2 separate regions of the Homo sapiens genome follow, and region 2 is linked to region 1. Evidence: fine-mapped expression QTL. Tissue or cell type: whole blood. Region 1 holds a variant in brackets; the other region holds the start of a gene. All regions are shown on one strand. Distances are from middle to middle.

Region 1 (5,149 bases):
ATTCTGCAGCCCACAGATCAAGGAGTAATTCCAACTTTAAAATCTTATCATCTAGGAAATACATTTTGTCAGGCTATAGCTGCCACAGATAGTGACTCCTCAATGGATCTGGGCAAAATAAATAGAAAACCTCTGGAAAGGATTCACCATTTGAGATGCCATTGAGAACATTCATGATTCACGGGAGGAGGTCAAAATATCAACATTAGCAGGAGCTTGGGAGAAGTTGATTCCAACCCTCCTGGATGACTTTGAGGGGTTCAAGACTTCAGTGGAGATAGTCACTGCAGATGTGGTGAGATAGCAAGAGAGCTAGAATTAGTAGTGGAGCCTAAGATATGGCTAAATTGCTGCAATCTCATGATAAAACTTGAATAGATGAGCAAAAAATGTGGTTTCTTGAGATGGAATCTATTTCTGGTGAAGATGCTGTGAACGTTGTTGAAATGACAACAAAGGATTTAGAATATTACATAAACTTAGTTGATAAAGGATTTAGAATATTACATAAACTTAGTTGATAAAGCAGCAGCAGGGTTTGAGAAGATTGACTCTAATTTTGAAAGAAGTTCTACTGTAGGCAAATTACTATCAAACAGCACCACATGCTGTGGAGAAATCTTTTGTGAGAGTCAATTGATGAAGCAAACTTTATTGTTACCTTATTTTAAGAAATTGCCACAGCCACTCCAACCTTCAACAACTACTACCCTGATCGGCCATCAGCCTTTAATATGGAAGTGAAACTGGCAAAATGATTATGATTCACTGAAGACTCAGATGATAATTGGCTTTTATGTTTTAGCAATAAAGTATTTTAAAATTAAGGTATGTACTTTGTTTTTTTCAGGCATAATGCTATTGCACACTTAGTAGGCTACAGTATACAGTATAAACATAACTTTTATATGCACTGGGAAACCAAAATGTTTGTGTGACCCAAAATATTTGCAATATTCACTTTTTTTGCAGTGGTCTGGAACTTAACCTGCAATATCTCCAAGGTATACTTGTGTGTTATAAATATATATATGTGTGTATATGTCTATACATACATATGTGCATATACAGACACACACATACATATATGCACTAAGTTATCACATATCACAAGTGAACAGCTTGATAAATGTTTAATACTGAACTCACTCATCTAACCAGCATTTGGATAAAGCCATAGAATATCACCAATACCCTAGAAGCCCTTTTGTGTTCCTTTAAGTCATACCCCTCCCCGAGGGTGGCCACTGTCCTCTTCCTAATAGCATAGATTAGTTTTACCTGTGTTGTGTTTTGTATATGGAGTCATATGATATGCACTATTTTGGTTATATTTTGTTTAATCACTTTGATTTGGATGTATACATTGACTCATGTCAGTCAACATTTGAATAAAACTACGAGAAGCCCTTTTCAAATGTTGAAAACATGTTTTTTGAGACACATTTAAGATATATATTCCAATTTCTGCTTCTCAAAAGCTCTCAATTCTTTTAGGGCTTTTCTCTAAACTCTAGAGCATCACAGCCAGTGAGAGCGAAGAGATATGAAAAATAGAATATAAAATATTAATATTTATGTTACTTATGTCTTGAAATAATATTTTGGATATATTGAGTTAAATAAGACATATTATTAAAATTAATTTTGTCTGTTTCTTTTGACTTTTTAAAATATGGCAACTAGGAAATTAAAGTTACCTTTGAGATTTGCACTGTATTTCTATTAGAAGCATTGATTTAAAGTGTCAGCAGGACTAAGAGAGACTCAGTGAGTTGAACAGTAAAGATTCCAAGTAACATCCTCTCTATGAGACCATCAAACTTTTTAATTTGTCCCTGAGAAAGGGTCTTGCTCTAACTCTTGCACAAAAGGCGATGTGTCTATGGTTCCCAGATTTGGATGAGATGGAGACTCGCTTGCCTTCCTATGTATTTTGCCACATTTTCAAAACCAAGTTACTTCATAAATGCATCAGTTTAACCACCAGTTTCTGCATATGTCATGTTTGTCCTGACTCCTGTCTAGCTTCCTGTGGCTCCTATCAGTAGGAAGGGACTCCTTTCTTCTGTCTGAACCATCAGATTGCACCTGTCCCTCACCTCTTCTCTCTGCCCTCTTTTCTAGCTGGAAAGCTAGAATAGGCACAGATTCCAAAAGACTTAATTTGCAAAATTTGTTGCAGGTCGATGTTTGGTTCTCAGTGTACATTTTCACTTGGAAGCAATGTTTTTTTTGTTTGTTTGTTTTTGCTTTTTTTTTTTTTTTTTTTGAGATGGAGTTTCGCTCCTGTTGCCCAGGCTGGAGTGCAATGGCATGATCTTGGCTCACTGCAACCTCTGCCTCCCGGGTTCAAGTGATTCTCCTGCCTTAGCCTCCCGAGTAGCTGGGATTACAGGCACCCACCACCATGCCTGGCTTATTTTTGTATTTTTAGTAGAGACAGGGTGTCACCATGTTGGCCAGGCTGGTCTCAAATTCCTGACCTCAAGTGATCCGCCCACCTCAGCCTCCCAAAGTGTTGGGATTACAAGGCGTGAGCCACTGCGCCCAGCAGAAGCAATGTTATACATTGAGTCTGAGGTCTTTGGCCAGTTGATGAGGCCTATTTTACTCATAATATATCTGAAGTATAGTATTTACATTTCTATTTCACACACGCTAATCAGAGGTGCAGGAGACATAGTAGCTCAGTCCTTGTCATAGGGGAGGGGAGGGTGGATAACTGCACACTGATGATTTATTCATTCTCTGCATAAAAGGAGAAATTGTAATCACTTAAGCATTCAACTTGGGTGAAATAGAGAACTGCTGCTCTGGACATAGAATCCATGAAAAGGTTAGGTTAATTATTGTGCTTCCTGTTTATAACATTAAAAAATACATTCTCACTCTCATTCAGCACCTATC[A/G]CTTACTTAATTAGCATCTATTTACTTCTAGTCAGTTGTATAAGAGAGTAACACTATCTAAGTTTTTTGAGCCATGACTTTCAAATGTACTTGACTTTTTTGCTTTTCACAAATACCCCATCTCTCTCTCTTTGTGTAACAGTGGTCACCAGCTGGGAAATGGATGAGAAGGCCACATCCTTAAGGCACTAATTTTTGCTCTGAGTTTCTTTTCTTTTCCTTTTTTTTTTTTCTGAAGGGTTCTACAAAGTACCATACTCTTAGGCTGGTCTTTACTTTGTGTCACTGTGGGCCCTTGACTCTCAAAATCCTTCTCTATTTCTGGGAGAAGAAAATCTGGGATTGAAAAAACTGTAGACTTTTCTATCTTTGCAACACCACCTGCATTTCTGAAAGGCTTATTTGCAAACCAGGCAATTCCTTCTTGAATACATTTATTTCTTGTAATTTCTTGTCAATCACAATCAATAACAACTAACACACATTACTAAGTTTCTGTTTTCTAACCTGTTCCCCCTTAGGCCACCAAGTGCATTAAGTACGTGGTCTACTTCCCTGATTACTGCAGGCAACAGTTACCAAAGGTGACAACAGTGATTATCTTTAAAGCTTCTCATATCAGTTTTCTACTGCCTGCTGCCTAACCACGAATGTCACCTATTTTAAGTTTTTTTTTAAACATCAGCATTTTACAACTGCATATCCATATCTGTGTCAAGATAGACAAAATTATAACATTTTGTATTTACTAACCTCAGAGGCTTAACACACAAAGAATTATTTCTTGATTAAACAAAATTCTGTTAGGCAGAACACAGAATTCTCCAAGAAACCCTCCAAGAAAGCTTTCTTCTTGTGGTTCCATAGGATTGAAATTGCTTCTCTATTCTGGCCCTGGACCTCAACTCATAACCCCCACTCCACATCTAAGGAGGAAGAGAAAGCAGGAGGGTCATGTTGCTTAGGAAGTTTCTAAGTTAAGGAGTGACTTACATCCTCTGAGAAAACTGCATACTGTAGAGTGTTTCTCCATACTCTCTCACAGAACACTTCTGACACCAGATGTGCAAGTTTTTCCCTCACCAACACCAGCTGGGTGTCCCACAGTTCAATTCAATTCTGACATTATCTGTCTGGAATTAGTGCAGACCTCACAGCTTAAGGGCTCAGTGCCACAGGACTTTTCCCACTTCAGATGCCAATTGCAAATCCAGGACTTCTGATTGACTGGCTGTATATTGGGGATTCCCATGACCCCTTCCTTGCTTCAATAGTTTGCTAGAATGGCTCACGAGAACTCAGAGAAACACTCCACTTACATTTACTGATTAATTATAAAGGATGTAGAGGGCAAAGTATGGATAGGGCAGTAGAGCTTCCAGGCTGTCTCCAGGATGTGCTACCTCACAGCAATTCCACGGGCTTCTTTGGCAGACCAGAAGCCCATCTAATCATGTTATTCAAATTTGTATGGAGTTTAAGTGCATGCCCACCCTTCGCCTTCCTGGAGATTGGGAGGTGGGACTGAAAGTTCCAACCCTCTAATTACTTGGTCATTCTGGTGATCAGCCGCATTCCAAGGCTATCTAGGGGGCCCCACCCTGAGTCACCTCATTAGCATAAACTCAGCATCCCTACATTTTCCATTTTCCAGAGTTCTGGATGTAATTTAGGTTCATTCAATTAGAGGTACCTGTATGAGGTTTGGAAAATGGAAATAAAATGAAACCTCATGAGACCAGACTCATATTTCTGTTTCTTTCGTGGCAAGGAATGGCCATGAAAGTATTTGATTTTTCTGTAGTAACTGTAGTAGAGGCTCCAGTGCCTTATTCCTGGCTTCATGGCTATTGGGAGGCAGAGGATAGAAGATACATTTTGCTGGAGTGGATTGTGACAAAGGTGGCATGGTTCTGTGTCCACTATCTAAAGTGATGGTTTCCAATTTCACCTGGAGTCTTCCTGATTTTACAGCATTTTGGTCGTGGCAGAGGTATTGGCTTCCTTGGTGGCCTGGTTCTGTCATTCCTGGAAGCTTAGCCTTAAGTCTGTCTTTTCAAGTTTCTCATTTACTTGGCAAGCCATTTTATAACTTCTTATAAAATTCCCTTTCTACTTAAGTTGGCTAGAAAATTTGGGCCTAGTTTTCAGAAGATTTTATATGATATGTTGGCATTACCTGAATGTAGATATTGACAGTTCTACAGCCCCACTTCTGGGTGGCTTTGAAGGAACAGCA
Region 2 (5,149 bases), 120 kb before region 1:
GACTGTTCTAGGTCCTGGAAATACAGGAGCGAGCAAGGCAGACCACATGGCTTTTCTGCTGGAGCTTTCATGCTGAAGGAGGTTCTTAGACAATCAAATACACACATAGACATACTTCAGGTAGTGATAAGGGTGATGAAGGAAAATAAAATAGGGTGAGGTTCAAACCAAAGGGAAGCTATCAGATAATAGGCTGGTCAGTAACTATCTCTGTTTTCACTTTCTTATCCCTAGCTCTAGTAAAGTCAAGAAACCAGCACTTCTTGAACTTTGATGTGCAAATGAATCACCCTGGGATCTGGTTAAAATGCGGATTTCAATTCAGTGGGTCTGGCGTGGGAACTGAGACTGCATTTTTAACAGGCTCCCAGGTAATGCCTTGGCTGCTGGTTCCTGGACCACACTGTCTTGCCATATGGGATTAAGGGAAAAGCTGTGAGTCCCTCCTAGGGCAGCCTCAACAGAGAGGCCATACCTCCTGAGGGCAGCAGACTAGGCAGTGATGCCAGCCTTAAGGAAGAGCAAAGATCAGCAGCAAATCCACCAGTACTAGATCCTCTGACACTCCTGGCATGCATTCATCAATTCAGAACCTCCCTTTCGATAATCTGGGTTTGAAACCAGCAAGAAAGTCATGGAGTTTCATTTTAAGTTTCCCCATTTTGTGGTACACAAGCCCCTCCACAGCCTAGCCCACCCTTATTTTTTGCTATAAGCATTCCTGACCCCTAGGTTTCTGGCAGTCAGAGTGGACAGTCCCCTCTCTCTGCCTTGTCCCATGGCCATCCATCCCAATATTAAAAAAAAAAAAATCTCCAAGCCATTTGGTACTGTTGTTCCCTCCATCTAGAATTCTCTGGCCCATGAGGTCAGATCCTGTCCATTCCCCAACACCCAGCTCGAATGCCACGCCCTCACGGGTTGGAGGAGAAGGGGGTTAGTCAGGAGCAAGCCCTTCTCAGAAATCCTACAGTTCTTTGCCTGAACCTATTTTGGGACATTAATCTCTTCCTACCCGCTCTGTGAGTGATTTTTGTTGTTGTTTAAGAGTTATCTTTGCCCTTAAGAGTTATTTTTGTCCTCGTTTTACGGATGGGATTTGGGTTCCTCCAGGTAAGACCTACCCTCCTCCACCCCCAAATCCTCCTGGTACCTGGATGTAGCCTAAGAAGAATTGTCCTATGAACGAAGAATAAATTAAGATTGGGTTTGCAATTGACGCCAGCAGAAGCAGAAATGGGCTAGGTTGAGCACCAGGCAAGACAAGCTGACGATCAGGGTACACATCTTGAATCAGAAACCCTGGGCACAGACCAGCAGTCTGCGTGGTAACAGGCCCTCCGAGTGATTCTGATGACACTCGAGTTTGAGAACCAGGGCGGTCTAGCCAAAAGCCTGCAGTACACCCCTTCCCCTCTCTCGCAGCTTACGACCTTGACCCTGGGCTCTGGGGGCTTCCGCCGAGGAGGGAGGAGGGCACAGGCGGTCACAAAGGAGGGCGGGAGTGGAAGGGGTGAGCCTGGAAGAGAAAGTGCGAGGATGCGAGAAGAGGGATGGAGCGAAGGAAGAGGATCAGAAGGAGGAAAGGAAGGTAGCGGGGAGGGCACAGAAGTGGGGAGGGAGGGAGTGGAGGAGGGACTGGCACCCCGCACGGTGGCATCTTCCAGAAGGTCATGCGTCCGTCCCCACGTCTTTCCAGGGCCGGTTCTCCCCGGTGGGGCCCGGGGTCTTGGAGACCAGTCTGTGCAGCCTGCCCGGCACCAGCGTGAGCCCCGGGACCCCGGCCTGGCGTCCCCCACGCCCGCGCCCCCGCGCCAGTACCTGCTCCTGCTGCGGGGGGGCCTCCAGCACCGGCGCTGCCTTCCGCGCCGCCGTCCCCGCGGCCATGCCTGAGCCACTGTGCCTTCTCCAGGGCACAGCGCCTGCCGGGGAGGGTCCCGCAGAGTCCGCAGAAGGAGGCGCCGCGGGGCCTCGGGAGCCGAGGGTGAGAGCCGGATCTGCGGCGGCGGCGGAGCGGCGGCCCTGCCCGGGTTGTGCGGGGCGGGAGATGGGAGCCTCCCGGCACGCCCCGCCTCCGCCCCCTGCACGCTGGCCAGCGTCCTCCCCAGCAGCGGCCTCGAGGTCCCGGTCGCCAGCACCCCGGTTCCTTCAGAACCTCAGGCCTCCCATTCAGCCAGCCATTGTCGCCGATAAAGCGTCTTGAGCCCTACCGGGTGCGTGTGGCGGGAACCCCGGTTTTGTTACCGGGCGGCAGGACTGGAGGAGGGGTCAGAGGTGGGTAGGGAGAGAGAGGGGAGTAGAGGAGTGAGAAATGGCGGTGGGGGGGCGAGGGGTGCTGGGGAGGAAGAGAAGAGAGAGAGAGAGTTTCCTCTCCCTCAGAGGTGTTTATTAGGAGGCAGGAGTTCGGGTGGCTGTGCAGATACAGACTTTCCTCAGTTATCTGTGCTTCCTCCAAAGATGATGAAGGAGAGAAACTCCAATCTAGGGAGAGCGCAGACCATCTTGGCCCCTATGCTGCTCCAGGCCATGCAGGGCCCCTGCGACGCAAGCATCTTGCCTTTGCCCCTCTACCTCCAGGGTCTCCCCTCCCGCCTTTACAACTTAGGCCTAAGCCTGGCTTCAAGGTTGAGAACAAGCTGGAACGTTTAGGCAAGCCTTTAGAAATACCTGGGTGTTGATTTGGGGAAACAGAAAAGAGGAGCACAGAATTAGATGATGTGTCCTACGAAATACAGCTTACCCCTTTCCAGTTTGTGATGGCTCGTATTTGTCAACACCTACAAAGGAGGTGAACAGACCAAGATGGACATTTCTCTGCCATTGTGGAACGTAGAGCCTAACAGGGGATAGAGAAAAATAAGCATCTAAGTACAATTTATCACGGATGGTGCCTTGGTTTTCCAGCCTTAACTGGGCATCAGAATCCTATGGAGGAATGCTGAGTTTGTTAAAACTCAGAGTGCTGGCCAAGCACAGTGGCTGATGCCTTTAATCCCAGCACTTTGGGAGGACAGGGCGGGCGGATTGCTTGAACCTAGGAGTTTGAGACCAGCCTAGGCAACATGGTGAAGCCCCATCTCTATAAAATATACAAAAGTGAGCTGGGCGTGGTACACCTGTAGCCCCAGCTACTCAGGAGGTTGAGGCTGGAGGATCGCCGGAGCCCGGGAGGTTCAGGCTGCAGTAAGCCGTGATGGAACCACTGCACTTCTGCCTGGACAACAGAGCGAGACTCTATCAAAAAACAAAACAAAAATCTTCAGATTGCTGGAGTTGAGCCCTAGAGTTTTTAATATAGTAGGTCTAGGGTGGAGCCTGAGCATTTGTCTTTTGAACAAGTTTTCAGGTGCCGCTGGGGCTGTTACCTACATCTGAAGACTACCTTGTAGCATGATCAGAGTGTGTTGGAAAGAGTGTCTGAGATGGAGAGAACAGTGGATGCAAGGGCCGGAATGCTGGAGAAGGCATAATGAATTGGAGAAATAAAAATCATGGTTAACATTGATAGAATGCTTACCGTGTGCCAGGTGCCGTCCTGAGCACTCTACCTGTGTTAGCTCATTCAGTCTTCCTGACAATCCTGTGAGGTGGGCATTGTGACCGTCCGTGTTTTACACGGGAGAACACTGAAGCACAGAGAGGTCCAGAAGTTTGTTCAAGTTTTGAAGCTAATAGGTGGGGCAGTGGGAATTTGAACCCAGACAAAACTGACTTCATGGTCTGGGTTCTTAATCTCTCAAGGAAGTAGCTGCGAAGGTCAGCAAGGGCCAGATCCACATAAATCATATTAAACAGTTTGGACTGTAGCCTCAGGAGAATGAGAAGCCATTACCGAGTTTTAAGCAAGAAAATGACATTACCAGACTTGCCTTTTGGCTTCAAGAGTGGGGAAGAGGGCTATGACTATGACTCAAGACAGAGAGACCAGCCAGAAAGCTATTGCTGTAGTTTCAGCTCTAAGGATGACAGTGGCCTTGGTGGTGAGAGTGTGTGCGGGGACAGAGTGGAGGGGAGATGGAGAGATGTGTTTGGGGATGGGAGATCTAGGTAATAGAATCTACTGTACTTGACTCATCTCCAAGGATGGTGCCCAGGCATGTGGCTTGGGCAGTCTAGCATTTGGGCAGACAGTGCTGCCATTGCTGAGAATGGGAACATTGAAAGAGCAGCAGATTTGGGGACACAAAAATAGTGGGTTCATTTGGACATGTTACTTCTCTACCTATCTTGTGGCCTGCCTTCATGTGGCAAGAGCCATTTTTTCTCTCCAGCCCAGGATATCCTCACATTCATCTAGATTCTCCCAAGGCAGCAAAATAATAAAATGAAAATAGTCCATATGGAGATAGATGTTCCCTTTCTATAAAATTCTGACCTGTTATTGTTATATAAGTCTCAGGTCCCAGATTTGAAACTCTCTCTCCTGATTGATTGGCACCAAAAAGACCCACATACTTCACTGGAGACCCATGTATGCACAAAGGTATCATCTTCCTTCTGGCTTCAGCTCAGCAATCATATCAGAATAAAACTCAAAAAGTGCATTTCTTCCCCATCAGTAACGATGGCTTTGCTCTAATCTATCCTCCTCTTATACCTGGTTTCTTCTATGATCAAATTGCAGATATTCAGAATGAATATTTAATTTCCCAGTCAGTTAGGCAATGCTCTCTGGAGTAGTTCACTGAAACAAGGTTAATTAATTTGAAATTTTGTTTTCCAAATCAAATGGTTGGCGGCTGACTCTGTCTTCTGTCCTGGAATAGATGAACTGTATTCTGCTGCTTAACACTAATCTCTTCAGCATTTTATCTGTAGTCTGTGCATCCTTCTTCATGTCCCGCAATGTAGAGTCCTGAGGTGGTTGTAATGATGTAATGGAAGAAATTAGCTAATGTGGTAAATGTGTTTGAGAAACAAGGTGGGGTCAAGAATCACTAGTCAGTTGATTGTCATATTTGGTGCAGGAATCAACAGACTCAAGGAACAGAATGGGCACATACATTTATGGAAAACTAGTTTCATGAGAGGAGTAGCAAATCAGCAGAAAAAAATAGATTATTTAGTAACTGGTTTATCCATAAGAAAAAAAAATTATACCATACCAGCACAAAACTGGTGGTTAGAAAGCAATAGTTTATCTAAAAGA

What was found. PIP is the estimated chance that this variant, and not a neighbour inherited with it, causes the effect.
Region 2: RNF175 starts here. The variant in region 1 is fine-mapped to the expression of RNF175 in whole blood (TOPMed, PIP 0.98).

Annotation. Positions count from the first base shown.
Region 1 is chr4:153,874,108-153,879,256 of GRCh38, forward strand. All of the region lies in intron 3 of LOC101927947 (a long non-coding RNA gene), which reads left to right. Among named protein-coding and RNA genes, the nearest start is that of SFRP2, 88 kb to the left of the region's middle. The variant A/G (reference allele first, on the strand shown) is at 2,911.
Region 2 is chr4:153,757,976-153,763,124 of GRCh38, forward strand. It overlaps RNF175 (ring finger protein 175), which reads right to left and starts at 2,049. Exons shown (of 9, transcript NM_173662.4): 1 at 1,822-2,049. The coding sequence starts at 1,887.